Linked DNA regions of Homo sapiens. The protein of the gene in region 1 interacts with the protein of each later gene in a pairwise test. Each region holds a gene or a part of one and is shown on either strand. Other genes may lie near its edges.

Region 1 (3,422 bases):
TTGAAGCCTCCTGTTTTGACCTAACAGGACAAACTCGACGACTTAAAATGGATGCTGTTCCAACCATTTTTGATTTTTGTACCCATATAAAGTCTATGGTAGGTAATGTTACTCTCCTTTTGTTAAAACCATTTTTAGAACTCATTCCTTTTTGTTTATGCAGTTATTAACTGAAATTCATTTATAGTGATATGCCTCAAAAAAGTTGCAGACCTTCCTCTTGTACAGTAAAGGTACAGGCTAGAATCAGAGTTTGGGTCTCCTGACTCCAATATTCTTTCCCCAATCCAAATTGTTTTACTATATTGGAATTTTACATTATTACCCATTATTATTAATAATTGCACCATTGGTAAAACTGAAAAATCATATGAGTAATGAAACCTCCAGCATCACTGTGCTCTGATTTTAAAATGACATACAAATAACATGTGCAAAGTACTTTAAGAGCACACAGCCAGAATTAAACCAAAGAATGTAAGTTCAGAGGGAGGCAGGCATGACAGAAATCTTCAGAGAGCTTGGGCATTCAGGGTGGGCTTTTGAAGCCTTGGGAGTTTAAAATAGAGGAAAGGGAACTTGGCTTTGCACAGAATAATTACAGTTGCATAATGAGAACAAAAACGAGTGGGTTGAGGCGTGAGTAGGAAATGTTAGCAAGTGATATTTAAAGGAAAGAATGAAGAAAAAATGAAGCAAAAAAAAGTAAATTAAAAAAAACGAAAGAATAAAGGTATAAGATGAATGAATTAAAACAATGTTTTATCTAGTTAGGGAAGATCTGACCAGAGAGGAAAACCTAGCTGGGAAAGACAGGGTCACCAAGAGTAAGAAAGGGTAAAATGAACACAAATAGTTTAGCTTTGAAAGGGAGGACAAACATGTTTTCCTCTGAGGAAAAACTACTGTTTCTCTTGTTTGTAACTGTTAAACTTTTAAATGTATATGAGTTATTATCTGAATGGAGACGAGGTTGTGGTAAGCTAATTACCACTGATGTTAGAAAAGCTCCAGGAGGACAAGAACTTAGTCTTTTTCACACGTGAATCCTCAGCACCTCAAACAGTGCCTGGGACATAGTATATACTCAAATACTTACTGAATTTGAAATACACCTTATTTTTGACATTTTGATAATTTATTTATTTAATAAATACAACTAAACTTTCCATTATGCCAGAATCTAAGCTCAGTGCTAGAGATACAAAGATCAAAAAAGAGTTCCTGTCAATTCCCTAGGCAGAGGGACTAACTGTAGGTTTCATGAGGATAGGAACCACATCATCTTATTTGTTCAGTGTTGTGTCCCCAGGAATGCATAGTATGTGTTTCAATAAATGTTTAATGAATTAAAGACACAGACTTATGAGGATATGATATAATCTGGAAACTCCCAGTGGCTTAGTATTGCTGGAGTATAAATCAAGATGGTAAATTGCAGAATGGGGTGAGATCCTAAATTGTATAGTATGCCATCTAAAGATTTATTTTTCCTTTAGATAATAGATAGGCAAAGAATAATTTGGCCAGAATGGAAAAGTCAAATATTCTAGAAAAATTATTCTTATGGCAGAATGTGGATTAATGAGGATCAAAATGAAGTGGAGAGATCAATAAAGAATAATATAGTCAGAACAGATATGATACGGGCCCAGTGTAAGTAGTGACATTAAGAATGACAGTGTTCAGCCTTATTGTGGAACAGAGAAAGGAAAAAAAAGAATGACGGAGAGGAGAGGATTCATGGTAGGAATATTTAGTGGGTAGAATTAATAGGACTTGATGACCATTTGAATGAAAGAGATAAAAGCAAAAAAAGTCTCCTGATTTTGGCAAATGTTCCTAGCCAGATTTTAAATCCTTGAAGATATAACCATCAAAAATTAATAGGTAAATCTGTTTAGAAGCTTGGTACTTAAGAATACATTTCTACAGATCCTTCAGTTTTCATTAAATAGGACCCTGGGTCTAAAATATTTATCAAATTGAGAAAAGGGTATTTAATTAAAAGGGGATCAAATTAATATCATAAATAATATCTACATATATTGTAAATTGACCTTAGTAAATTGCAAAGGATCTTTAAAGTCTCTATAGAGTCATAGTCAATAATTTGGAAGAAACCTTGGACGTCCATTGTCTATTTCCAAATCAGTGTTTGAATCTCTCTGGATATGGGACAAAAAGAAATAGGTGACTAGAGTTAATTCAACCAGTTAAAAAACTTAATCTTGGATTACATGAGATGGCTGCTGCTGTTTCCTATTAAAGTTTTAAAATTGACTTTTAAAAGAGCAGTTTAAATACTGTTATCCAAAACTGGACACTATGTGCTTATTTGTGATATTTCATAATTTATGTTCAACCCTCTAATTTTATTCGGCTCAGAAACTCAAGTCAAGGAATCTTTTGAAGAAAAACAACAGTTGTTCTCCAGCTGGACCATCTAATTTAAAATCAAACATTAGTAGTCAGCAAGTACTACTTGAACACAGCTATGCCTTTAGGAATCCTATGGAGGCAAAAAAGAGGATCATTAAACTGGAAAAAGAAATAGCAAGCTTAAGAAGAAAAATGAAAACTTGCCTACAAAAGGAACGCAGAGCAACTCGAAGATGGATCAAAGCCACGTGTTTGGTAAAGAATTTAGAAGCAAATAGTGTATTACCTAAAGGTACATCAGAACACATGTTACCAACTGCCTTAAGCAGTCTTCCTTTGGAAGATTTTAAGATCCTTGAACAAGATCAACAAGATAAAACACTGCTAAGTCTAAATCTAAAACAGACCAAGAGTACCTTCATTTAAATTTAGCTTGCACAGAGCTTGATGCCTATCCTTCATTCTTTTCAGAAGTAAAGATAATTATGGCACTTATGCCAAAATTCATTATTTAATAAAGTTTTACTTGAAGTAACATTACTGAATTTGTGAAGACTTGATTACAAAAGAATAAAAAACTTCATATGGAAATTTTATTTGAAAATGAGTGGAAGTGCCTTACATTAGAATTACGGACTTAAAAATTTTGCTAATAAATTGTGTGTTTGAAAGGTGTTTTTTGTTTTTGTCTTTTTAAACTACTGTTAAAAGAACAGCTTATGATAAGTAATATGTTTAACTTAGAGAAGAATTTTTTCCTGTACCAAAGTTGGCATATTGCATTCTAAATAAGATGCTAAATAAGAGTTAACCAACATTCAACATGACCTTAAAACTGCTGGGTTTTGTATTAATTAAATTATAATTGGCACTGTGATTTGAAAAATTTATAGAAAAAAAGGTACAGGGCAAGTTTTTAAATTAAAACTTTCTATATTTTGTTTTACCAGTAAAAGTGAGCTTATCATGGCCTCTCTCATAAGAATGATTTTAAAATAGGTTGTAAAATATTTTGAAAATATTTGAATGTGAAGTACCAT
Region 2 (2,376 bases), on another chromosome or scaffold:
ACCACTGAGGTTAGCGGAAAACAGGCTTCATATTTCTTTGCAAATAATCAAATTTCCTTTAAATAGACCTATCTAAAATCAGTTGATAATTTAACTTGAATTCCCAAGCCACTCAGGAAAATAATCCAATATTCACCTCCCACATCAACCCAAAGTCTGTTACTTTTCTGTCTTCTTATTTGACTCAAATACCTTTCCACTTGCTGGTTTACTCAAAAGATCTGTTTCATCTCCATGTTTTAGAGCCTGAGGATTTCATTTTTAGTTATCTATTCAAAACATTTTCTTCACTGTAAAATGATTGACAACTAGTAGTTTTTGTTACAATGGTAATTCTACTTTCCCAATCCATCACAATTGTCTTGGTTTTTATAGAAATATGACAGGTTGTCTTGAAATTCTGAAGGTCTCAAAATTATGCGAGAGTGAAAAATGTCCCTGAAAAAGTAAGCAACTTTTTAGATTGAAATAATCACATGAAGAAAAGAAACAAGACACAATTTGATATTTCAGTTTATTTTCCAAGTTTACAGTATAAAAAATGTGATGTGTAAAACATTTTACAGTTAATTGGGATGAGGGGGGGATTATACTGGAGGACCCAAAAAGGAACAAAATAACTTGGGTGACAGGTACACTATTCCATCAGAGACACTAACTCTGTTACTGACATCACAATGAGAAGAAGTTTCATAGCATAAACCTTATGAATGTAAGTAAATGGACCTGTACAGATGGTTGCTGGTAGTGTCATTCATTCATTTACATGCTTGCAAATGTGTCAAAAGAGCCCACTACCCAGTTTATGCAGGAACTCACTCAGGCCTTGTCATACACATATGGTGACCATGAGCAGAGGCTGGTTGGCAAAACTGCCCCTCCTGGTTACAATGTACAGTATTAACTAATCAGAAAGAACAAAAAAGGTCCCTGACCACATTTTTACACAAACCGTTATGACTCTGTCAGGTAAAGACAGGTGGTTTCATCTCTGAACTTTCTAAATTGGTGCTGGACTTGAAATCAGGAAATGTAAAGTCCTTCTAACCAAAGCAATTATCAAATAATCTCCTCTCAAATAAGACCTGCCTGGCCCAGGCCTCTCTGGTTCTCTCAGTAGCATTTCTGTTGAGGAAGGGGTCATCTATAATGTGAGTTAAATCACTGAGCCAGTATCTGCCCCCACCCTCATCTTTGCTGGCATCCTGCACTCTATGCAATAGTTATGGCCATAAATGACTGTTGGAAATCAAATTTGGCTAATCACGCCATAACTTAGGGGTCCCAGAGGAGTTTGCCATTTAATTAAAGCCTACCGTAAACTATTATAAAAATAAATTATTGCCATAGTTTAGATTTTTGTATGTTCCCTTTTTAAAGAATGATGATGAAAAGTAAGCGAATGTTCCATTACCTCTATAACTGAGAGGTGCTGGTAAATGAAAAACAACTGTTTCATCTTTCTACAAGGCCCCTAGAACGGCAATGATGTGCAACTGTCTAAATTCCCTACAACTTCAGTTGAACTAAACTTGTCACCTGCAGATCAGATGCCCAAGTCCCATCACTAACTCCCTGAGCAACAAGTCTCTGGTCCCCACAGATGAAGCTTTCTTAGGCTGAAGGCTTTTTAGAATTAAACACTCCTAAATGATGAGCAACTTCACAACAAAAGGCCATGTCTACAAGTGAAAGCTCAGATAAAGATAAGCACATACAAAACCAAACAACTGTACATTCAAATAATGCTTCCCAAATACCATTTCAGTGCCAAAAGAAGTGCCAAAGACACTTTTAAGATAAAAGCCTGGGGTTTGTCACCTTTGTCCCCAAAGCTTAAAGTAAGTGTCTTTCTTCCACTATGACAAGGACAAAACGCTGATGTTTGTAAGCTGAGAGAGACATAAATGGTAGAGTCTTGGTGCCATATTGAAAGAAACTTTTCACAGTGCTGCACCTGGCTTTAGGAATCTGCTCTTTTGTTGGAGAGACTAAAACAACCCACTAAAGAGGCTTATTTCATAGACAAAACAAATTGGGTTATCTACGTAGAAACGGAACAGGACCTGGGAAAACGGGACTTATAGAGCCCTGAAATTTAATTTTATTCTGAAGTTTTACATTTCTAATCCATCGCATCTTAATTCCTAATGAGATGTCACATGGAGAGATGTGAGCACCATCTTCCCTTTACTGTCTTCCATTGAAAGCAAACAGCAGGGCAGAAAACTATGGTTTATGCACAACTGAATCAAAACTTACTACATATGGGAACAGAGAAAAATGGTTTTCTGAGTCCTGTTTTACGTCTGCTCTGTCAAAAGTCTTGGGGGCAAGTGTGAGAAAGACGGTGGGATGCAAACTGCTTGCTGAGAA

The links. Proteins that work in one complex are often made in the same cells at the same time.
Region 2: the proteins of THAP2 (region 1) and VANGL1 interact in a two-hybrid assay, tested with the Homo sapiens proteins (one large-scale study listed by BioGRID and IntAct).

The regions. Positions count from the first base shown.
Region 1 is NC_000012.12:71,674,301-71,677,722, forward strand, and holds part of THAP2 (THAP domain-containing protein 2), read left to right. Parts: coding exon 1-98; intron 99-2,388; coding exon 2,389-2,808; 3' UTR 2,809-3,422.
Region 2 is NC_000001.11:115,696,346-115,698,721, reverse strand, and holds the end of VANGL1 (vang-like protein 1), read right to left. Parts: 3' UTR 501-2,376; downstream 1-500.